2 separate regions of the Homo sapiens genome follow, and region 2 is linked to region 1. A link means that fine-mapping ties the variant in region 1 to the plasma level of a protein whose gene starts in the linked region. Region 1 holds a variant in brackets. A gene starts in the other region. All regions are shown on their reverse strands. Region 1 holds the start of LOC105370997 (a long non-coding RNA gene). Region 2 holds the start of RTN4R (reticulon 4 receptor).

Evidence for each region. A credible set is the group of variants that fine-mapping cannot tell apart. PIP is the chance, under the fine-mapping model, that this variant and not a neighbour inherited with it causes the effect. The UK Biobank Pharma Proteomics Project read protein levels with antibody pairs (Olink). The fine-mapping took linkage between variants from a reference panel, not from the people measured, so its PIPs are less certain.
Region 2: RTN4R starts here. The variant in region 1 is the best candidate, but not a certain one, in a credible set for the plasma level of the RTN4R protein (UK Biobank, PIP 0.60).

The regions. Positions count from the first base shown.
Region 1 is chr15:96,165,700-96,178,155 of GRCh38, reverse strand. The region is part of intron 3 of NR2F2-AS1 (NR2F2 antisense RNA 1); the gene reads left to right. The region is part of intron 1 of LOC112268156 (a long non-coding RNA gene); the gene reads right to left. LOC105370997 (a long non-coding RNA gene) reads right to left here and starts at 6,573. Exons shown (of 3, transcript NR_188332.1): 1 at 6,511-6,573; 2 at 4,655-4,752; 3 at 3,821-4,404. The variant G/T (reference allele first, on the strand shown) is at 6,569.
Region 2 is chr22:20,263,514-20,275,969 of GRCh38, reverse strand. It overlaps RTN4R (reticulon 4 receptor), which reads left to right and starts at 7,652. Exons shown (of 2, transcript NM_023004.6): 1 at 7,652-7,899. The coding sequence starts at 7,878. RefSeq lists enhancers at 806-1,306, 8,120-8,808 and silencers at 7,389-7,448, 7,499-7,658, 7,749-7,908.

The sequences.
Region 1 (12,456 bases):
GGCACGATCACAGCTCACTGCAGTCTCGACCTCCTGGGCTCAAGTGATCCTCTCACCTCAGCTCCCTGACTAGCTGGGATCACAGGCGCATGCCACCACACCCAACTGATTTTTTTGGTTTTTAGTAGAGAGGGGGTCTCACTATCCTGCCAAGGCTGGTCTAGAACTCCTGGGCTCAGGCAATCCTCCTGCCTCAGCCTCTCAAAGTGTTGGGATTACAGGTGTGAGTCACCACTCCCAGTCCTCTTTTTTATTTTTAAAAAACCTTCTTTAATATCTTGTGGAACTATAATTTTAGGAACATAGTTTATAAAATGTTAACTTGGTAGCATTAGGGTGGACTTTTCCACCCCTGAATTCCATCCTCCCAAATTGTAGTCCTTTTTGAGTTTTGAATGATGGCTGATTACTCTTCTGATTCTTGGTGCTTTCACCATGCCTGCCTATATGCAACCTCTGTTAGGGTTATGAGCTGGAAACCCAGGCTTGTTAGAATTTTGCATAAATAAGTGTCATAGGATTTTGAGCATTGGCTTTAGAGAGTCTTCCATGAGCAAATATATGAGCTTGGCACCCTGAAGCTTTTGCAGCTATTTTGACTGCCCACAGGATTTTTCTTGCTTACTTACTGGTTTCTTAGCTTCCATTCAGAAGGCAGAACTTTCCAGCTAATTGACCTCCAAATAGTTGAAGCGTGATTGTATTATTGCTACTAATAATATTGGCATTGCATAAAAGCAACAGAACAAGTCTGCAGATTATACACTGCAGAGGCCCTTTAAAGAAACAGTTAATCCAGAGATTAGGCTGCATATTTTGAGGACTTTTTCAAATTTTTGTCAGGCACACACTCTCATCTGATGCTTGCAACAGTGTTGAGCATATTGTTTGTGAAGTGGTAGTGAACCTTAGTATGAGAAATACATGACCACCTACTGGTGGGGTTACAAAGGCAGAAATTCAGCTATAATCAAACAAACAAATGCATTATTCTTTCTACACATTCATGAGACAAGAGCGTAAACTCACTTGTGGAATTTACAGTTTTCCACAAGCGGATTTGGCGGAGGCATCTGACTGGGGATGTTTCTATGTCTTTCACTGTATGCATCTCTTATCATAAAATTTAAACAAAGAAATGAAAGTTGGCCACTTGCCATGGAATTAGATTCCATCATAGAATAAATTCTCATCACTAGTCCTAACGGTGATACCCAAGATACCTTTTTGGATACCTTGAAGGTAGGATACTTCAGGGTCCAATCAGATACATCAAAGGAAAATAAATGCTAACATAAAAATGGCCAAAGGAAGGGAAATAGTGATGTCGCTTTGTGCAACTTTTAGAGTAGTTTGTTTCATGCCAGACATTACTTTTATCCTTTCTGCCCCATTTATTATAAAAATTTTACTTTGAAAATGTTATTTTAGAAGGAAATTTTGTTGTCACAAGACTTAAACAGAGGAGGTGAAAGAATTAGATAGTGAACATCCAGGTATCCATCAACCACTTTCGACAATGAACACTTTACTTCTCTTGCTTTTTCATATCTCTTGCCATCTGTCCCTCCCTCCACCCAATCATCCAACCGTCTTGATTTTCTGATGCATTTCAAATGAGTTGCAGGCCTTGATACTGTTACCACTAAACCTTTCAGTATGCAGATCATTAACTAGAATTCAATATTTATTTACAAGGTTTGTTTTTGAGGTAGATACAGTATAATGTACAAACTATGTACATTTTGGTGGATTTTGGCAAATACACACAACTGTGTAACCCAAACAACTCTCAAGATCTGGGATGTTTCTAGCATCCCAGATTGTTCTCTCATGCCCATCCCACCAATCCTTGCCCCATTTTCCCAAAGACAACCATTATTCTGATATATAATTTTTCACCCTAGATTAGTTTTACCCATTTTAGGATTTCCTGTAGATACAATCACGCAGTGAGAAAAAGATGTGCAGGGCTTTTTCACTCAGAATAGTGGTTTGGAGATTCATTATGTTGTTGTGTGTATCCACTGTAGTTTGTTCCTTTTTATTGTTGAGTAGTATTCCATTGTAGCCATATACCACTGAGGAGAATTTTTAGAGAGAGAGAATATGCACCAAAGAATGCCAGAGAAGAGTTTCCGGGATAATGAGATGGTGGTGGTTGGGGGGACCTGAGGTATTTTACTATAAAAAAGGGCACTTTTAGGAAAGGACAGGAGAACTACCTTCTACTATTTAAGGCAAGAATCAGCAAACATTCTCTGCAATGGGCCAGATAGTAAATATTTTAGGCTTTACTGGGCCATGTGGTCTTTTTTCAAGTACTTAATTCCGACTTATAGTAAAGTAAAAGCAGCCACAGACAATATGTAAGTGAAGTGTGATTGTGTTCCAATAAGACTTCATTTATGGACACTGAGATTTAAATGTCATGTGATTTTCATGTGTCACAAAATATTATTCTTCTTTTGATATTTTTTCCAACCATTTGAAAACTTGAAATCCATTCTTAGCTCATGGCCCACATAAAAACAGATGGTGGGCCAGATTTGGCCTACGAGCCATAGTTTGTCAATCTTTGATAAAAAAGCACTGTCAAATGGAAGGAGGAATAATTATTCTGTTTAGAACTAGTGGGCAATATGAAGACTAAAGGAGGCAGCTTCTGCTCAGAAAACTGAGTAATTAAAGTAGTGTTGAAATGGACTCTAATTCCCTACTTTGTCTCTGTCCCTTGCCCCTATTGGTAGCATAGAATTAGCAGGACAGGCTACAGGGCTAGTCTGTTTAGTGCAATTGTCCAGCTCTTCTCAGTCTATCTGTGTGACCTCTGGCAAGTTAGTGAACTCTTTTCTGTTTCCATTGATTCATCTATAAAATAAGAGCAATAATAGATCCTACCTCCTAGAGGCATTTTCAAGATTCAATAAGTTGAGTGTCTATGAAGTTCTAGGAACAGTGCTGATTCACAGTCAGTACTACTCAATATACTTAGGACAGTGTCTGGCACACAGTAAGTATGAAATATGTGTTCATTATTATCATTACTGTTGTTATTGCTTTAGTCATTGGGAAGTTGGATAGGCATGTGCGAGAATTTTGTTGAAGGAATTCCTACTTTTCATAGTAGGCTGGACTAATAGATGCTTAAGTTGCTTTCCTGTCCTAATCATCAGCATTCTCTTCAATTTAGTGCCGGATACTTTGACCCTGAGGCTCAACTGTTGTTGAAATCTGAGAAGAAATAATATAACATTCTAGTCATTAATATTAGCATAGCCTACATAATAAGGTAAAAGTACAGTTGGGCCTCCATATTCCTGGGTTCCACATCTGCAGCTTTGAGCAACCACAGATTAAAAATAATTGTAAAAAAAAAAAAGAAGTAATAATACAACAATAAAAGTAATACAAATAAAAATGCAGTATAACCATTTACGTAGCACTCACATTATATTAGGTATTGTAAGTAATCTAGAGATGATTTAAAGTATACAGGAGGGTATGCGTAGGTTATATGCAAATACTATACCATCTTATATAAGGCACTTGAGCATCTGCAGATTTTGGTATTGAAGGGGGTTCTGGAACCAATCTCCTACAGATACAGAGCAATGGCTGTGTATTTTGTTTCTGCTTGATCTCTCCTTACGCTGGATCTTGGACCTAACTCTCAGTAGATCTGATTAATTATAAGGCCTCATGTGGATGCTGACTAGTTGTAATGCTACTTTAATTTTTTCTCCATGTGAGAAAGTGAGAGGAGTAGGGATCTTTGCTTTGTAAAGGGAAATGTGTCAAAGCATTAAGCAAGCATTAATTTTTCCTCAGAGCTTTATTCACATATTGGACGATGCTGAATAACCAGAGAGTTGTGCGATTATGCACAACATTATTAATGCAATTATGTCTGGATGTCCTGTGATGTTGTGGGACTGGTGCTCCAAGCCCATTATGATTGCTGTTGCCTGTTGAGAACAGGGGAATCCAAATAGAGTTGACTGTGGCAGATCTCCATTTGCAACCCCTCATCCCCCAGTTATAACCCTTATACTAGATTGTTGTCTTTGTTTACTTGGTCTCTGAAATTTATTTTCCCAAGCCTGATTATGTATCGTCTTTTTCTCTGTTAGCTGGCTGGAATGATGGCCCCTGTTTCTAGGTGTGGTAAGCACGATATAAAATCACAAAATGGTACTAACAGAGACCTGTGTGATTATTTATGTCAACATTTTCATTTTCCACATGAGGAAACCAAGGCACAGATAAGAGAAACTTCATGCTTCCAGTCCAGTGCTGTTTGTATTATGCCAGATTCATCTTCGACTCTAAGCAGGATCGGATGTGGGGTGTGTTGTTGAAAGTGGCAGGAGAGCCAGATGGAGGCAAGCCCCACCTTCATGCCTACAATGTAGAGTTTTGGCATTATTTCCAAATAAATATATATAATAACTGGAATACTACTCTCTGTTATATTGAACACTCTCAGAAAACATTATAAATATCAAATGTTAAAGCCTAATTTATTAAAAAGTCCTGTTAGGGGATGTCTTTATTATTTCACATATTGGAATCTCAAATTGTGGCATTGGTCTCAGCCTTTCTGTAACTCACAAAAGCTCTACTGATGAGAAAGTGATACCATAGTATTTACATGGGTGCTTAAACATTTAGACATCCATGTGAACAGACGATTCCAGGAAGAATTGCTGGTAGGACACAGAGCAACATCAAGGCAGGCCTTGACTCATCCTAGATGATAAGTTAAAAAAAAAAAGGTCAACATGGACGTGAAGAAAGAACAATAAAAGGGAAGAAATGCTAGATAGTGAAAAGGGAGAAAAGAAGAAAAGAAAGGAGGTAGTGTACCCTGGCAGTTCCCAGGAAGTTAAGGTGGCAGGGGAAATGCAAAGCTCTCTGATGGGGATGAGGCTCCTAGTCTTTTGACAAAAATAGAAATGGGGGCTTTCACCGTTAACCCCCACATCACTTAATAAAGCCTGTTCAATAGTCTCATGTGTTTTTTGAAGCATAAAGGATTTGAGTTGACTCTTACTATTTTCTAGCTTGACTCAAAGATGGTTTACAGCACAGGAAGTTCCAAGGTTTCACATAAACAATGTCATGAGAGTTATTAATTTTTGGAGTTAAGATTATTGCCTCCTAACTGACTTTCTGAACTTTTTGGATTTAGAAACTACTGCTTTGAAGGCAAATATTTGCTTTCCATATTAAAAAAACCACTTTTTAGAGTATGTAAAATGACACACTAACATGAACTAAATTCATAATGAAGCCAAATTCTTTTTAAAAATATTAAATCTATAAAATTAGAAAACCATTTCACCCTTTTGTGTAAAATACCTATGCTAATGCCTTGCTCACTCGTTTTTTAAAAAATCAATTTTAAGGAGAATAAAGAATTCTGCTGCAAAAACAAGTTGAAAGTCTAAAACTCGTTTATTGCGGTAGAGGCTCCAAGATCACACACGTCCATTAGAGGTATTCAGTGCAGGGTCACTGGAGGGTCGGCAAGAGACAGCCAATTAGATGTCTGTTTTTCCTTTCAAAGTCCTGTCTGTTTCCTTCACTCTCTTCAAAACACCCTAAGTAGACATATATATCATGAAGTCAAAGCGAAAAAAAAGAAAAAAGAAAAGAAAAAAGAAAGACAAAAAGAAAGCCTTAGAACAGTGGGAGTTTTATTATCCAATAGTCATATGCATTTTAAATACCCATCATTATCAAGAGGAAAAACGAAGCCTGGTGTCTGGTAAGAAGATGTGCTACAAAGTAGAATACTATTCAATTTTGTCTAAACTCAGGCAGGAAAAGGCTACTGAATGCAATCCTTGGTTTCCCACCGTGGAAGATAGATGACTTCAAAGTTGTAGCAAAAGTATTTGTTTAGAGTAGGGAGGATCAAGACTTTCTGGTATTTACAGTGAAAAAACAACAACAACCCAGCCTATCTTTTAGAAAAGGAATGCATGGTTAAATTGGCTCAGCTTGTCCTTAGCAACCTGAACTCGGAGGCCACATTTTTTCCTCTCTAAGAAGCAAGTGGGAACTTGAAAAGTATGTAGCATGTCGTGAAAAGGGAGCAGTGAACTTTGCCCAGGTCTGCAGCCAGCACTGAAATCTGAACCTTCTGTAGTCCCTGGACTGGTGTCCCACCTCGCTACCCCCAACCTTCCTTTTTAATCCCTCTGCATAGAGCGCCTTAGCAAACTACCTTGGCCTGGAAGCAGAGCAGTTGTGACTTCTGAGGGAAAACCTGTTCTCTAAGTATTTCTGATGCCATTAAGAAGGAAATGCTAATGACAACAAAAAACCCCACTAAACCCCAGCTTTATAATTATGATTATGATATTCAACCTTATTTTTTATAATATGTATGGAGAAAATATAGAAAGATTTTGTTCTGTTGCATTAATTTTCAAGATAGCTTGAGAAGTTTTGGAGGTTCCCTATGTAGAGATTGTCACTGCTTGGAAAGATTTTTCTTACCTTGTTGGCGGGGAATATCATCAAAAGCCCTGCATTTAGGCGGCTTGCAGTATGAATC[G/T]TTTCACAACAGTAAGTTACTTGGTAACTTGAGCTGCACTCGTTCCTGAAATTCTTTCACCTAATTGAAGATTAACTTGATTCCCCGGATTGTTGATGGTGGTTGACAGTGTGGGGCTGGGGTGGGTGGAAATAGATTATTCAACTCACAAAGAAGTAGGTGTACCCTAAGTGACTGTTCCATTACTGATCATGATTGTTTGCCTTCCTAAGTATTCATCAAACTCGGTGCTGCAGGATCGTGTGGGGAGGGAGGAGAGTGTACCGCCAGTGTTCAGAAAGCAGGTGAACCTCAGAGAAACTTCAATATTTTGTAAAGAGACTTATATGTAGTAATGGCTACTCCAGAATCCATTAACGCCCAAACAAGCCGACTCAAGGGTTCTGGCTTTCTCAAGTGGCTAATGTAAACAATATGAAAGTCAATAGTCGGGGACATTCCAAGATAGTATTAACACGATTGATTTATTGATGGTTGCACAATGGGAGGTTATCTTTTGTTAATTGACTCGGTAAATAAGCTCCCAGGCGTCAGGGCATAGGGGGAAAAGCAACCAGTGGAGGAAAAGGTGAGGCACCTGGATTATAATTTTTTTCAACTCCCAGCCTGTCTTGGTAAATTCCATACCACTTCCTCTGCCAACCTCAAACACAGTTTAGCAATTTTAATTCCGGCCAAAACTCTGCATCCATGTTTCATGAGGGGAAGACTCAAGGGTGGTATGTTCCTATCAAACAATCCAACTTTCTTTCTCTTTCTTTCTTTCTCTTTCTTTCTCTCTCTCTCTCTCTCTCTCTCTCTTTCCTTCCTTCCTTCCTTCCTTCCTTCCTTCCTTCCTTCCTTCCTTCCTTCCTTCCTTCTCTCTTTTAAAAACTTTTACTTCAGGAAGATTAAAGCAATAGTAGTTGAGAGAGAGACAGAGAGAGAGAGAATTCACCGACTTGGCTTATTTATTAATACAAATCTAGAAATGGTAGGGAAGATGCATGTATGATCTTTTTTTTTTCTTTTTCTTTTTTTTTTAGATGGAGTCTTGCTCTTGTTGCCCAGGCTGGAGTGCAATGGCACAATCTCTGCTCACTGCAACCTCTGCCTCCCAGGTTCAAGAGATTCTCCTGCCTCACCGCCCCCCAAGTACCTGGGATTACAGGCGCCTGCCACCACACCCAGCTAATTTTTGTATTTTTTGTAGAGACGAGGTTCGCCATGTTGGCCAGGCTGGTCTCGAACTCCTGACCTCAGGCGACCCACCCACCTCGGCCTCCCAAAGTGCTGGGATTGCAGGCATGAGCCACTGTGCCCGGCCTTCACGTGTGATCTTTTAACCTCCAAGAAATGATTGAACCATAGGGATAATACATTGTTTGCTGTTGGCAGTTATTTATGCAGCATTTCTCCATAAAGACTACCATAATTTGGTACTTCCTCCTCCTATGAGGAAGGGGGAAAGAAAAAAAAATGCTTTATAAATTTTGGTCGACTCCTAGTACAGCAGTCCCCCGTATCCGCAGTTTTGCTTTGCATGGTTTCAGCTACCCGTGGTCAATCACAGTCTAAAAATATTCAGTAGAAAATTCCAGAAATAAACAATTCCTAAGTTTTAAATTTCACACTGTTCTGAATAGATGAAATCTTCTGCCATCCTGCTCTGTCTCGCCTGGGCTGTGAATTGTCCCCATTGTCCAGCGGATCCATGCTGTATGCCCACCCCTGCCCGTAGTCACTTAGGAGCCATCTCTGTTGTCATATTGACTGTCACAATGTCACAGTGCTTGTGTTCAAGTAATTCTTATTTTACATAGTAATGGCCCCAAAGTGCAAGTATAGTGATGCTGGCAATTCGGAGATGCCAAAGGGAAGCCGCAAAGTGCTTCCTCTAAATGAAAAGGTGAAAGTTCTGGACTTAATAAGGAAAAGAAAAAGTATCCTGAGGTTGCTGAGATCTACAATAAGAATGAATATAGTATCCATGAAACTGCGAAGAGGGAAAGAGAAATGTGTGCATAGTATGTTTAGGGCTTGGTGCTGTCTTCGGTTTCAGGAATCCACTCAGGGTCTTCGAGGGTATCCCTCAAGCGCAAGGGGAGACTGCCGTATTATGTCTGCGGAAGTGGGACCTCCTAGATCAATTCCTAACACTTTGAACTTGGCAAGATAGATTTTTTTTTGGACTTTTACACTTTTATCAGCGATAGTTTAAAAATTTAAATTGCTCACTGTTTAACCCTTGCTATCTTCTAGAACAGTGGTCCCCAACCTTTTTGCACCGGGAACCAGTTTTGTGGAAGATGATTTTTCCATGGACAGGGTTGTGGGGATCATTTTGGGATGACACTATTCCACCTCAGATCATCAGGCATTAGATTCTCATAAGGAGCACCTAACCTAGATCCCTGGCGTGAGCAGCTTACAATGGGGGTCAGCTCCTATGAGAATCTACTGCCACTGCTGATCTGACAGGAAGCATGATCCGAAGTGATGCTCCCTCGCCCACTGCTCACCTCCTTCTGGGGCCTGGTTCCTAACAGGCCACAGATTGGTACGGTTCCGCAGGCTGGGGTTGGGGACCCCCGTTCTAGAACACTCAAAAAACATCAACTTCTCCCTTCACGCTGTCTTTTCCTCTGTCTCCCTAAGGCTTTTCTTTTTTTGATACGGGCATTCTTTAAGCTCTGACTTCTCTTTTCCTCTTTCCTCTGCCATCTCCCGTCAATCTCTTCCAGCTGCTGGCTGTACTCTGCAGGGGAGTTCAGAGTGAGCGTGAAGTACAAATCAACACCTGCACCCACTCCAGCTCTGTCTCCACCTTCCAACCATTTCCCGTCCTGACTTTTCTATTTCTGTACCTAACCCACCCCAACCCATTCTGCCATTGTTTTTGGCCTCAAAACTTGGAGTCCGCCTCACATTCCCACTTTCTTCTGTAAGTTCTCAAGTCCTATAGATTCTGCTTTTAAAATGTATAGTTCATAAACGATGAGCTTTGCCTCCCAGATAGATTAAATTGGACTGTGGATTGGCACACGGTAAGTATTCAATTAATTTTTGTTGAATGAAGGAATGAGTGAGTGGCTCCTCCTTAAACCAGGGTCCCTGCTCCAAAATATAATCCTACATAGCTTTGCATACTACTGTATTCTTCATAATAATCATCTCTGATCACATTATTTCAGGGCTCAAAAACTGTCAGTAACTAGTTTTCTCCTCAATCCAGGGTAAACTACTCTTTTTTCAAGTCACCCACAATGTCTTTTTGTTTATCTTCCACTAAACTCCTAAATATCCTATGCTCAATACAGAATATTGCTTATTTTCCTCTAAATTCTTTTTTTTTTTTTTTTGAGATGGAGTCTCACTTTGTCACCCAGGCTGGAGTGCAGTGGTGTGAGCTCAGCTCATTGCAAACTCTGCCTCCCAGGTTCAAGCAATTCTCCTGCCACAGCCTCCCAAGTAGCTGGGATTACAGGCATGTGCCACCATGCCTGGCTAATTTTGTATATTTGGTAGAGACAGGGTTTCTCTATGTTGGTTAGGCTGGTCTCGAACTCCCGACCTCAGGTGGTCCACCTGCCTCGGCCTCCCAAAGTGCTGGGATTACAGGCGTGAGCCACCACACCTGGCCTCCTCTAAATTCTTTATATCTCTCTGCTTCCCTATTTTAGCTCATTTTATTTCTTCAATCAGAATGTTTGTTCAATCATTTTTTTAAGCTGCATTTTTTTAACTGTTTTTTTGAGGCCCATTTCAAATGCTACCCTGTCCATGGAGCTATTTTTAGTTCCATATACTTCTTTCTCAGCCAAGCTAGATGTGCTCTTCCTCTTGGGGCGTTTATTGTATTCAGCCTGTATCGTAGATATTTCTATACTTGATTTATTCTTTCCTAATAGAAGGTAAATGCTTGGGAGACAGGAGCTAAATAAATCTTGCTTCTTTCTTCTAAGCCTGGACTCTCAGTGCCTTGTACATAGTAGGCACACAGAATGCTATTATTGAATTACAATGATTTTTATATTTTCATCCGTGTAAGATTTTTTTCTTTCTCCTTTGATTGCATGTTGTTGTTCAGCATTGTGTGCGTGTGTGTTTCCCCATTTGCTATGTCCTGCTTAGCACCTTTAGTTTTGAAATACACATTTATTTATGTATCTTTCCCATTTTGACCTAGTAAATAAAATGTATTTTTTCATGTGACTATCCAAAGTGAGAGAGGATACTGTGAAATGTCTCATGAACTGCTGTTCCAAGGTAGTATTTATAAGCAATCCTTTGATCTGGATTTCTTTTAAATTTTGTGTTTATCTGTACACATTTAGGGGGTACAGGTGCAGGTTTCTTACACGCATGTATTGTGTAGTGAAATCCACATTTATCAATCATTATTTTAAACTGGTCTTCGGAATGCAGGCAGGTCCAGGAGCAGGGCTCCTTCAGTTTGCCCTGCTGCAGCCTGCTTCGGGTTTGCCCAGCTTTCTGTTCTTTCCCTATCCCTCTTAATGTCTGGGAATTAGTTACGCTGAAGTTCCACTTCATACAGAGCTGCCTGCAACTTGAGATGCAAACTCCAACACTGTGGGCCACTTTTTAGAAGCATGTGGTCATTCGGGAAACAAAGGCACTCCTGTTTCCTCTTCTCAATAACAATTAAGACATCAGATTAATAGAATCTTTAAATTCTTGAACTATGCTCGCAGAATAGTTTGTGTTTGCTTTAACACAAAGGAATACTTTCCAAACCCTAAAGGTCACCCAAGAAATAAGAGAGAGACGGCTTATGAATCGTGTATGCTGGTAGATTTTTGGAGAATGGCATGTGTCCTAGGCAGTGCGCTCTGGCTTTGGAGCGACTTGGCATGGGAGTACTCTGTGATTTACGCTGGAGAGGCATTTCCTGGGCAAGGAATCCCCTGTATTGAAGGGGCATGCCATTAGGAGGAGAAGAAATAGGGGCGGGGCGGGGTGGGGAAGAGGAAGGCTTCTTGGTTCACATTCTGGCATTCACTTAATGAGTGTGATGTTCTTGCTAATGGGATTTAACCACAATACCTATCCCTAACCTTGTCACCAAAAAGGTAGTCTACATGCCCCTTTTTTTTCAATACCGTCTGCCTGGTAACTGTGCAAAAGTCTGTTCTCCCAATTTTCTAAATGGTAATCCTAGAATTATCTTGGCTCAGAAATGAATGAAGAACCCGTGTACAGGACTCAAATTTCCCTACAGGGGTTGTAACTGAAGCAAGGATTAAGTGCCAGTACACAAAACCTCTCAAGCAATGGACAGCATGTCGATTGCTAAACATTCTATGGTAGAAGGCCTTTAGTTTTTCTCTTTTATAAAGCTTGAGATCAAGTTTTGGTAAGAAGTAAAAAAGCAAGGCAATTTAGCTCCTTTAAAGGATTGCTTGTTGGGAAGGACAGAGCTATATTTAGCTCTGTGGCTGTGTCTCCAGGAAGCTAAAGCAACAAGGCAATTAAATGGTGAATTGTGTGTGTGTGTAGAGAGGGGGCTCAGGGGGAGGGCAGGTTAGGGAGATTATAATATAGGCCTTAAAAAGAATCTGTTTAGGAAAAAAATTTTCAAAACAGTTGCAAAGTATCATGAAGATACAGCAGACTATTGACTGACCACCTGTTGCACATCGCAAACCTTTATTTTGAAGTGGAACAGACAGAGCCTGAATAACTCCAAGTTCCCCCATATGGTGATAGCAATAATAAACTCTCTGTCATTTATTGAGTACCTACTATATACTAAACACAGTGCTTTACTTCTATTAAGCCATTTAGTGTTGACAACTGTGCTCTCGGCAGCAAATAACAAGAGGGTCTTGCCCAAGATCACATAGCTGCTAAGTGGTTGAAACAGATTTGAATCTTGTTCTCTTTCT
Region 2 (12,456 bases), not on the chromosome of region 1:
GGCGTGCATCGTAACAGCCAGATAATTTTATTTTTTAATTTTTATAGAGACTGGGACTCACTATGTTCCCCAGGCTAGTCCCGAACTTCTAGCCTCAAGGGATTCTCCCCGCTCTGCTGGGATCACAGGTGTGAGTCACTGCACTTAGCCTGTTTTACTTTAAAATATATATATTTCCTGTTTTGAATGGGTATCCTCTCCTTCCACCCCATCCCCAGCGACCTGACACCCCCAGCTGTACCTGCAGGCGGTCCCCCTCCTCACCCCCACTAGACATATCTGTGAGTGCCTCACCCCGGCCCCACCAGACCCGCAGGCCTCTCCCTGCCCTCCAACAGCCAGACCTGTGGGAGCCCCTAAGCAGCCCCCCTAGGGAACCCCCAGCCTGATGCGGCTGCCATCCCTGTGGGTGAGGGGCAGCATCTCACTGCAGCTTAGATCCGCATGTTTCTCACTCTGAGTGAAGGTCAGCAGGGGGTGATGGGAGGTTCCTTTCATGCCTTTGCCCATTTTTCTCTTGGGCTGTTGCTCTTTTTCTTACTGATTTGTATTGAGAACCAAAAACGGCCCTTTGTGAACTGAGTTGCCGATGTTTTTACCCTTTGTTGGTTATCATTTTATGGTGGTTTTTTTCTCTCCATGCATCTGCCTTTTATTTTCACGAGGTTGAATATACCCATCTTTTACTTCATGGCTTCTGGGTTTTGTATAATTCTTAGAGTGACTCAAGATTGGTTTTTTGCCATCCATGCTTTCTTCTAGGAGTTTTATGGTTTCATTTTTACTTTTTAAATCTTAGTTCCACTTGGAACTTGTTTTAGCGTCAAGGAGTGAGGTAGGAATCCAAATGTTTCCTCCATATGTCAATTCCGTTGTCTTAAGGCCAAGTGTTGATTGTATATGTGGGATTATTTGTTGAATATTCCATCTCTCCTCTTGGATTTGACCTGCCTCTTCTCATATTTGCATTTGAGCCTCTTTCTGGACTCTTTCCCATCGTGTGACTGTCCAGGGTCTGTGTTAATTATCATGGTCTTAGAATATAAGGCGTTTCAGGATGCGACATGGCCCATCTCTCTCCGTACGTTCATTCTTTCATGTGAACTTCACAATTGCTCTGGATGGGCCTCCTGATTCATTCAAGGAACAAGCCATCAGGCTTCAGCCAGGCCAGAGAATGGGCCGTGGGTCCCAGCACTGGGCTTTCATCTGGGTTCCATCCGATTGGCCTGTGCCCCAGGGCCTGGCTCCTCGGGACTCAGCCAGTCCTGCCGGTGGAGTGCATAGGCATGACGCTGAGTGCTGGACTCTGTTTCCACGAGAGGCCTTGGGGTGGAGGGGTGTCCCAAGGGAGTGGCCGAGGCAGAGGACCCTCTTTCTGGATGTCCTCACTTGCCCATGGGAAGGGAGGTGGTCCTGGCTGAGCCACAAGGCCCTGCAAGCCCAGGCCCTGCACACATGCACCTTGGTAGAGCCAGCCAGAGAGGCCTGATGACCAGAGCACCTAAGCGGCAAGGGCAGGCAGGAGTGCCCAGGAGGGAGCCAAGCTGTGGCCGCTCTGCTGAGCCATCCGTTCCAGCAGGCAGCAGGCAGCGGACTGAGAATGCTCAGTTCAGAACTCGAGCCTGGGCATGAACCGGAGCCTCCAGAAACCTGCCCCTTAAGCGGGTCGGCTAAGAGTGGCAGCTGGGAGCTGGAGACCCAGGACACAGGCAGCCCCCAGCAGCCCATGTGGCCTCTTCTCAGCCACACCCCGAGGGCCCCAGGCTCTGCTCCCACCATGGCCGGCCTCCTGGGAGCCCCTCGCCTGGCTGGATGGGCCAGTGGGGCGGGGGCATTGAGCAGAGGGTGGGTGGGGCCAGCAGACCCCAGATGTCCGGACACAGACTAGGAGAAGCGCCTCTAAGGCTGGCAGCAAACCCCGGCCAGCCTGGACCGTCAGCAGGAATCCTGGCTAAAAATATCCCAGTCTCAGAGGCCTGCCGGCTGCTGCAGCCTCCTCAGAGCCCCCTCCTCACGCTGGGCACCGCCCCTGTGCCCCTCCACCTCCCTTGCAGGCAATAAGGCCTGCGGACACAGGAGGAAACTTAGGCCCTGTGCCAGTGAGTCCCAGCCCCAGGGCCTGGCCTCCAGGACTGCCCACAGAGGCCCCCATCTCACTGTAAGGCCCCGCCCTGCTCCGCACCCATGAGCCTGGGAAGGGGTCAGGGCAGGCCCCATCACGACTAGCTCAGGCAGGGGCACAGGCTCTGCTGGCCCCACCCTGCACAGCTCCCTGTCCCATGGCTCTCAGAGGCAGAGCCACTGGCTGGGGGGCAGAGCCCCAAGGACTTGGTCTGAGTCACCCTAGCAGAATGTGGGGTGCTAGGTGGGCTCTTCCCAGTCACCCCTGTGGGCTTCAAGTGACCAAATGGCATGGCTATGCCCTTTATCCTGGAATCACTGACTGGGGGACTCAGGCCAAGGCCCGCCTCCCAGGCACTCAGTTTCCCCACCTGTAACCAGTGGGGATATGTGGAATGGGGGTCCAGCAGAGGTATGCAGGGTGTTACAGTCTGCCTCCCAGAGTGTTTGTTGAGTGACTGAGGAAGTGAGCAGATGAAGGCGGCAAGGGAGGCTGTGGAGGGTGGGGCTACTGAGCTCAGAGTCAGGCTGGCCCTTTTGCGTCCTTGACGGAACCCTGTGGTAAGCCCTCAGCCTCTCCATCTGGGAAACGGAACAAACCTGCATGCTGCATGGATTGTGGTGGCCCAGAGTGGGGAACCCAGGGGCCCAGGGAGCTCCTACAAGAGCAAGGCTGGGCACTGGCCAGCCGAAGCATCCCAGGGGCCATCTCACTATGGCCCCAAGATGGGTTTGGCGGTCTACCCTGCCTTCCACTCCCCACCCACTCCTGCTGACAGCTATCACCATGCCTTCCCTGCCTTCCCTGCCCCACTGGGAGCTTGTGGGTGTTTTCAGCGGGTGCCCCTCCCCCCCGACCCGGTTTTGACTGCCCGCTGGGCTCCTGGTGTGAACAGCGGCTCCCAATTTAGCTGTCACTGCCAGGTGGGTGGCTCTAGAAGGATCCACACTCCCTGCAGGGGCGGGGGAGGGGCGTGAAGCCACAGCGGATGCCTTGGGCACAGCCCAGGGACCCCCGCCTTCCGGAGCTCTGCCCCTGCACCAGATTTGGGCCTTCAGGGACCAGAAGCCGCCTACTCCCCAGCCCCCACCAGCCGGCCTCCCCAGAGAGAGGCCACCAACTCGGTTGTGCCCACTGAGAGAAGACCCTGAGCCCATCTGCTGGCAAACACAAGTGGCCCGAGGCTCATCTCAAGGTCCAGGAGCCCTGGGGACTCACCCCTTCCTCTAGGCACCAGGAAGAGTGGCGGACCAGGGTCCAGGTGCCAGCCTGGCATGTCCCACTTGGCCGAGTGTCCTTTCATCTCCGTTCAGGCTCCCATCCTGGAGATGGGCCACAAGGGATCCAGTCCAGGGCTGGGGGACGCAGAGGTAAGGGCCATCACTGTGCAATGCATACGTCCCATTGACGGTCCCCAGCAGCCTCCAGGTGGTGGGAGGTGCGCATGGTCCGTCAGGGGGCCTGCCTAGTGTGGCACAATCCAGGATGCCATTCTGTGGGAGGAGGCCCTCGCTAGTGAAGGGTCAGAGGCATTTGGAGATGGGCAGGCCCAGTGGGATTCTTGGGGCCACTGCCAGGGTTTGGTTGTCGGTCCCTTCCTTGTGCCAGCCCCCTTTGCTGCTGCTGTGGCTTTGATGAATAAGAGATGAGGAAGCAGATTAATTATGGCTTAACATGCACCAAAGTTGGGCAGAGGGACTCCTAGGGATGGGAGTCCTCAGGGGTGCAGAGCTGATAGGGGAAGGCCAGGACACCCTCTGCAGCCCCGGGGATGGGGGATGGTGAGAGGCTTCTGGAGGAGGCGGAGGCTGTGGACAAAGAGAGGGCAGAAAGGGGCTGCCAAGATGTGGGTCCACCTAAGCTCCCCAGACCTCCTTCTCTGGTCTGGAAAATGGGTAGTGGTAGTAGTGTCTACACTGTAGGATTGAATGGGATGACTCACTCAGCAGGCCTGGCACAGAGTCCTCTTAGGCCTTGGGCATGCAGCCGCCCTCCATGGTGAGAGCAGATGGCAGGCCAACACCCCCCAGCTCCCTGGCACTGGGACCACATCCCCAGCCGCCCACTCAGAGTGCAGGGAAGGTCAGTCACATTGACACACTTGGGCAGCAGGCATGTGCTTGCCACATGACCTTCTAGCTTCCTTCTTGGTCTCTCCTTGCATTGGCCTGGAGTGGCCCAGAATGTGTGGAGCAAAGACCCAGTTTCCTTGCTGCCCCATCCCTCCCCAGGAGACACTGAGGGCCTGGATGTCCGTGAGTACCGCACAGGCATGCCAAGGAAAGCCATGGCACGCCTATCTCTCCAGGCAGGAGATGAGTCTTCCCAAGCCCTGGGAAGCAGTGACCTTCCAAGGAGGCTGAACCGTGTCCCTGTCAGCCCAAGACAGGCCACCGCGAAAGTTCCCCTCATCTCAAGCTGGCTTCTATGGGCAGTCCTGGAGTTTTGAGTGAAAACCCTGCATGATCCTCTCAGGGGACAGGCGAGGTGAACAAAGGAGGGATGGTGACCAGCTGACCAGGACCTGAGGCATTAGCGTCTGCCTCGTCCACATGCTGTGCAAGCTCAGCGAGGCCAAGGGACTGGGCTGAGGTCACACAGCTGGGCAGGGCCCTCATGACCGGCATGCTGGTCGTGGAGGCTGAGCCCCACATTTTGGGTGTGGGTGTGGGTGGGAGGTGAGACAGCCCCTGGCCTCACTGTAGAGGGGTGGTGGGCTGGGGAAGCTGGCAAAGAATGTGCCCCACATGGTGGGTGTGAGGTGGGGAACGATTCGGGCAGATGCCCGTGTGGCCCTGCTGACCCAGTCCAGGCAGGGTGTGACAGGTCTGTGTGGCCCTGAGGGCACAGCTGTCTGCAGTCTCCAGCTCACTCCTGATCCCCAGGGCCACGTGTCCAGAAAGCCTGGGAGCTTGCATCAGCTGGGCACAGATGGCCTGTCCTCCCAGCACCCCTGATGGGGCTTCCTAGGAACTGACTGGTGTAGACTCCGGGCAGCAGACGGCCAGGCTCTGCCCACAGGGTCCCTGGCTCCTCCCACAAGGTGACCCGATAGAACTGGTTGTGCCCCTTGACCAGGGGCTCCAGCCCTTGTCAAGCCCTCCCTGCTAGCCCCTCACCAGCCGTCAGCTGCTCCCCTTCTTGCCCGTTGGGCCCTGGGGGGTGATGGCTCCGTGGTCGCCTGCCCAAAGAGTACACCACTCCCCATGCTACCCCTCACCCGGCTACACCCTGAAAAATGTGGCTTACCAAACCCTCCCACATGCGCAGCCTGAGAAGTGGGCTGTGCCTTGCTGGTAGCAGACCCACCGGCTGCCTAGCCCTGCTCAACTCTGCCTCTGCACCCCCATAACTCCCTATCAGCGCTGGCCGACGCCTAACCATCCCAGCTAGCACCCAGGAGTGGGCCCAGCTTCCAGTGGGGAGGGTGCTGGCCAACGTGCTGACCGAGGTGGCGGACACAGGAAACCAGCCCATCCCCCAGCGCTCCCTCTGCAGGCCTCAGCCCTGCTCCCATGCAGAGACCTGTGGGGAGGTGGAGGCCCAGGTCCCAGCGCAGAGCAACCGGGAACAGCCAGGTTGGTGGCTGGAGAGGGTGCTGGTGCCAGAAGCCTCCAGGGCCACCCCTGCTCCCCATTTCACCCCATGCCCATCCCATGCCCCAGAATGGTCACTTCGGCTGCGGCAGGAGGGGTGGGAGGGGCTTTAAACCTATGAGATAGGGTGTGGGGTCACAATCTTCAGCTATAGTGGGCTGCTCTGGGTCACTGGTAATTGAAGAGACGCCTGCGGAGTAAGCAAGCAAGTGTCCTCTCAAGGCCTTTCTGCAAGCACAGAGCAGCCCGAGACTGGAGCCTGGTCCACCCCAGCGCTGTCCTCAGACTGATGGTCAGTGCCACGTGACTCATCTAGGGTCTGATACATCCCTGTGGAGAGAGCTCAGTTCCTAGCCTGGGGGCTGCTGTGTGCAGGGACCCTGGAGAAGAATGCTTGTCTGGGGGTCAGGCCTCAGCCTCCCACTGGCTCTGTGAGCTTCGCCTGAGGTTCCCTATCTGTGCAATGGGTGATGACGTCTTGGTGTGGCTCTGGGAGGACCTGTTGAGCCACCTCAGGGGCTGAGCTGGTGGCACTCGGCAGCCAGCACCCTCTGGGGAGGTGGCAGTGTGTGCACAGCCCACCCCTTCAGGAGGCCAGGGGACAGAGTGGCTGGGGGTGTCTGGGCCCCACCTCACCTTCTGTGTGGCTGGGAATGGCATGCACTCCACAATGCCCTCATAAGCCTAGGCTGGGACAAGGGTGATAGGGATAAAGCAGGCCAAAGTGATGAGGGCCACAGAGCGGCAGCCAGAGGCATGTGGGCAGTGCAGCCTCCACACCAGGCAGAGGGCCCACCCAGCATGGCTCCACCCTGCGAAGCTGCCTGCCACTGGGATCAGATGGGAGCACCAGGGCTCTGGGAGGTCCTCACTTCCTCTGCACAAGGCAGGCAGGTCACCGGCCCTGCGCCCTGCTCATCTCCCTCAGGGCCACCTCCATGGCCAGGGGCAGGCAGAGGGCACAGGGGTGCCCAGTCACCAGGTCTCTCTGCTTCATATCAGTGGACCTGGGCTCTGAGGGGGGCCATCAAGGCATCAGGCTGGCCCACTCCGTCCTTGAGTCAGGGTCCTACAGACTGACACCAGGTGGGCCTGCAAGACCCTCATCTGCATGGTCCTCTCATGCAGGGTGGGCCTGGGGAGGACCCAGCCCGGCTGAGCTGACTCCCAGCACTTCTCCAGGTGCAGGGGCAGCCTGGCAGTTGTCTGAAGACCCCGGGATGCACTTAGGAGCTCATCGGTGAGGCCCGGTAGGTGCCCCGAGCAGAAGATTGAGAAGGGACACCTGCACCCCTGTGTGGTGTGTGCAGGGGCGTCACTGGATTCTCTGGCCCCATGCCTCACACCGCCCGTGGGGGGCTGGCTTGGTAGAGTGGGGGGATACTAAGCAGGTGACCTCGGAGAGCGTCTTCTGGGTTTGGAGCCCCCATTCCGCAGAAGGGAAGAGGTGGGGGACCCCTGCAGGGTTACGGGTAACATCAGGCCTAGGTCCCTTCTCTAGGATGGTGCAGAGAGGGCCACAAAGGCCCAGGAGGGCCCCCAGAACTCTCTTAAGCCCTGAGCCTGTTTCTTACTGAAAAATGGGGGCGATCGTGCTGCAGCAAGGGGCTTCTGTGCAGGGGGCGGGGGATTCATGGGTTTCGTGAGGCCAGGAAGGGAGTGGGTCAGGCAGAGGCCATTCCTAGGCCTCGGGACAAAGCCCTTGCCCGCTTGGGGACCGGGCCAGCCTAGGCCGCCACACCCTCGGGCCCGCGTCCCCGGCCGGCTCCGGCCCGGGCCGCCATCCCCTCCGCCGCCTGCAGGGGCCGCCGCCTCTTCAGGAATGCGCCGCCTTTGTCTGGGACCGCGCGGCGCCGGTGCACCGGGCGGGCTGAGCGCCTCCTGCGGCCCGGCCTGCGCGCCCCGGCCCGCCGCGCCGCCCACGCCCCAACCCCCGCGCCGCCGCCGCCCTCGCCCTGTGCGCCCTGCGCGCCCTGCGCACCCGCGGCCCGAGCCCAGCCAGAGCCGGGCGGAGCGGAGCGCGCCGAGCCTCGTCCCGCGGCCGGGCCGGGGCCGGGCCGTAGCGGCGGCGCCTGGATGCGGACCCGGCCGCGGGGAGACGGGCGCCCGCCCCGAAACGACTTTCAGTCCCCGACGCGCCCCGCCCAACCCCTACGATGAAGAGGGCGTCCGCTGGAGGTGAGTGTCCGCGCTGCACCCGAGCCCGGCCGGCGGCGGGGCGCGGAGGGGGGCGGCTCGCCCCCTCCCCGGAGCCGCAGGGCCCGTCCCGGGCTGCCGAGGCGAGGGAAGCGTAGCCGGGCGGCAGGGAAAGCCACCGCAGTGCCGCGCCAGGCTGGGGCCGCTGGCGCCCCGGCCCCGGGAGGGCGGAGCCGGAGGCGGCAGGAAAAGTTGCCGCTTCCCGGGAAAGTTGACGGCTTCGGCAGGGCCGAGGGTGGCGGTCCGAGGGTCCCCGATGCTGGGCCAAGTCGAGGGCGGGGGCCGTGGGCTGGAAGGGCGGGGCCCGGCCTCGGAGCGCCCCGGCCACCAAGGGGTTAACGAGCGGGTTTTTGCAGAAACGTGGGTACCGAGGGTGGGTGGGGGTGTCGGGCCGCCTCCACCCCAGCCTCACGGTCTGGGCTCAGAACCTCCCGTTTCTCCGAGGTCAGTCCACAGTGGGATGAATGGGGGCGTTGGCGGCAGTAGAGGGCGTGGGGGACAGGGTTGTCCCAGCGCTGCCTCCAGGGCGGGCGGTGAGAGGAGGCAGCAACGCCCGCCATCTGCAGCCCGAGGGACATTGAGAGGCTTGGCTGGGGGAATCAGGGGCGGTGGGGCAATCAGCAACCCCTCCCTAGCAGCCCTCGTGGGACTCCCCCGCCCCACCGGCTGTGAGGTCCCGCGGTGCGGGCAAGGGAGGGTGGGCTCCATGTGAGTTGGGCATGCCCCGCCTGGAGGGTGCTCCCCAGGTGCCCACCCAGGCTGCCCTGCTGATGTCCATGGTGCCGCAGGCTGCACACACGTTTCCTTGCACGTGCACTTGTCTACACGGACTGCACACTTGCACACCTCTGGTGCACATGCAAGCCAACGCCGCCCCAGTGTGCACATGCACAAACACTGGGTGCACACACGGACTCTGAGGGTGCATATCTGTGTCCTCGCCCCCGCCTGCACACCCACGGCCACACATGCATGCACGCGGCATGCCTGCTGTGGTCTCCACGGGTGGCACATGCTGGGGCCCCTTTCGCAATAACCACTCCCGCACCCACATGCTCGTCTGTTGAGTGGGGAGGCCAGGCCCACAGACAGGGGCAAGACATCCTGGGCCCCACCTCTGCCTGCCTGCCTCCGTGTCCTGGGGGTCCCCGCCTCGGGCTTGTGTGCGTGTGTGTAACTTGGTATGCATCTGCACGTGTGTCTGTGCGCGTGATCATGTGTGCCTGCGGGCACATAGGCATGTCTCTTTGCCTCCAGGGTGTGGGTGCCCCTTGTGTGCCTAGACAGGCTGTGGCCTAATCTGGAGCAGAGGCCCTGGAATGTGTGTTGGGGGCTCGTTGAATACCGCAAAGCCCAGGGTGTGAGGGGCAGGGTCTCCCAGCCACTCCCTACCCACCAGGGCTGAGGCAGATAGATGATGGTGGGCTGGAACCTGTCTGGGCAGGGAAGACCCATTTCAGGCCATGAGGTCAACACTGTGACCAACAGGCCAGACCCTGGGCACCCTTGGTGGCCGCTGCAGCTTGGCTGACTGGAGCACGTGACCCAGCGTGACTGCAGAGGCCCCGCCTCCAGTGCCTCAGTTTCTCCATGGTGAGGACCTTCTTGGTGAGGGGTTCTGTGGTGGGCTCCCCTACCTCCGGTGTTGTGTAGGGTGCTGAGCAGATGGATGCCATGCTGCATGATGGGCAAGGGTGGCCCACTAGCACTGTGGCAAGGGCCCTGGGCTGGGGCTTGGATTGGCAGGCCACACCTCCTGCTCCCCTGGCCACCACCAGAGGCTCATCTATAGAGTGGGGACCAGCAGGTTATCCTTGTAGGTTGTGTGAGGGTGAAACATACTAGCAGAGGGGCAGCTGAAGCAGTGGGGCTGGCCAGTCTCTTTTTCTAAGCCTCAGTCTTCCCATCTATAAAGGGGGTACTGTTCCCTGTTCTTCTCTACTGAGGTGAGGAGGAAGTGAGCTCCCATGCCGGGGGTGGGAATGGGTGGCCATCAGCACCTAGACGCCACCTGGCAGAGGGGCACGTGCAGGGCCTGCCGTGGCAGAACCGTGACCTGGATTTGGGTCCTGGCTCAGCCACCTGCTGGCGGTGTGACCTTGGGTGTGACAGGTCGCCTCTCTGCCTCAGTCTTCCTCACCTGCACCATGGGCCAGTGGTCAGGGATTATCGGGGCACTTCCAGGCTGAGGCTGGGCGGAATTGGCCCGGCTTTCCCTGTGGAGTTCTGACTCTGGTGCTTCTGCCTCAGAATGCCCACAACACCTCCCCACACCCCCACTCAGCAGAGTCCTCCTGGGACCTTTGCACTGCCAGCTGGCCCCTCACCCCATCCATGTGCAGAAGGGACAATAAAAGCCCCTAGTCAGGCAACTCGGGCCACAGGTGAGTGGAGAGGGGACAGGGCAGGGATGCTGCCCAGCTTGGGAGACCCTCCCATAGTACCTTCACTCCCTCCCTGCCCTCCCCCTGTTCCTCACCTGGGGGTCTGTGGAACCCCTGAGCCTCAGTTTCCCCGTGCCAGGGTCCTTCTGCTGGGACTGGCAGAAACGTAGGTTTGCATGGAGTGAGAAGCAGGGGAGAGGCTGAGGGAGGGCCTGGCCCAGCACGTCTCTGAAAGCCAGAGGGCTTGTGGAGGGTCCATGGAGGACACCCCTACAGGGGCTGGGGCCCTGGAAGGTGGGGGAAGGTCCTGCTGTCCTGGGAGGCTGGGAACTGGCCCACAGCCTGTGGAGGGGCCAGGGTTTGTTTGCTGTTGCTGTGAGTGACAGGCAGGCTGTGAGGGCCAGGGTGTGTGGGACCGTGCTCTCCCCCTCCCTCTGCCCAGGAACAGTGCAGCCTTGTAGCATTGCCCTCTCCTCGTCCCTGCCCCAGCCTTGAATTCATGCTTTGTGGCACGGACGGCCCTGTGCAGCCGGTGCAACACCAGGAGGGTCCAGCTGGTGAGGACAGGACGGGCGGGAGGCAGAGGAGCCCTCCTGCTGTCCTGGGCCTGTGGCCCGGAACCTCTCACCGGGAGCCTTGGTCTGTGCACCTGGGAAAGGGGTCAAGAGCAGGAAGCACACGGGGAGTTTCAGGATGACCTGGAAATGAACAAATGCGTGTGTGAGCCAGGCGCCCCGCCCGGCCCTGGCACAGGGTTAGTGAGGGCTCCTGACACTTGGCTACTATCTGATCAATGAGGTTCATGCCGTCCCGCCCCCATTCTGGTGAGCCTGACCTCTGACCCCCAGGCTGGTCTGCCTGACCCTCTGCAGCCACCCAGGGCCTGGGCCTCAGGGTCTGCGGGAGCTGGCTTGGCCGCCTGCTGCCTCTGCAGCTGTGCAGATGCCCTCTCGGGTCCCTCTCTGCACCCCTCAGTGTCCCTGCTCTGCGGTCTGGCTGCACCCAGGCCAAGGTCACAGGCACCCTCCTCAAAGCCAGATCCCAGATGCTGCATTTGCCCCAACCATCCATTCACTTTCTCATTTGTTCATTCATTCACTCGTTCGTTCCTAGCCTGTCAGATTCTCTTCTGAGCCAGGCAAATCAAGGGGTGTGATCCTTGGCATCGGGCATCTCTAGGATTAAATGCTTTAAAGGATAGGAGGTCACAGAGTGGCCCAGGGAAGCCCGATCGGAGCGGCGGGCATGCTGCCCCACCCCACAAATCTCCCTGCACTGTCCCTGGGGCCCAGCTGGGCTCCCCCACACCAGGTGTTCTGTGCTGCCGTTTCTTCTTTTATCGCTGTATTTTAAACATTTTGCACATCGGGAACTATTCTTGTGCATCATGGGTTTTCTGGTGTGTGTGGAATCCCTTCCTGAGAATGCACCATCATTTATTTATCCAAACCTGCACCGGCCTCCTGCACTGCCTGCAGCCGTGGAGCTGGACACTGGGAGATGCAGCTCTGCACACCCACCCCACCATGTCCTCAGCTGGCACCCACCAGGTCTGGGGTCTGGTCACGTGCCTCTCCCCCGATGCTTGGGCTGATTTCAGGGGACTCGGCAGCAGGGCCAGATCCTGCCCCTCCTAGCCCACTGAGGCTTTGACAACCGTGGGCTGGCCGGGTAGGTGATGGTGAGTGAGTAGAGTCTGGGCAGCCATTTGTGCAGTGGGTGCCTTGGGGCCACCTCTCCCCTGCCTCTTTCATACAGCCTCTGGTCTTGCCTGCTATGGCCTGCGGGGCCTCTTCTGCGGGGCAGCAGGGCAGCGGGGCATGGGGTGATGCTGACACTGTTCCGCAGCTGTGTCCTGTCCGATGGAGGCAACCCACAGCAGCCAGACCAGGAGGTGGAGAAGAAAGGCAGGGCAGTTGGCACACCTCGAGAGTGGCCTTAGGAGGGGCTGAGTGGGCACAGGCCAGGGTCCCCATGTAGGTCTACACAGGCCTGGCAGGTGGAAAGCCCCATTCAGGGCCCTGGCACATGGAGCTGGGCTGATCTGGGAGTGAGGTGTCGGGTGCTGACCCAGCCTCACTCAGAGCAGCCTGCCCTGGGCCCCCGGGTGCCTCTTGGCTCTCCAGTCAGCACCCTGGCATTCTTAGCTGGCTGT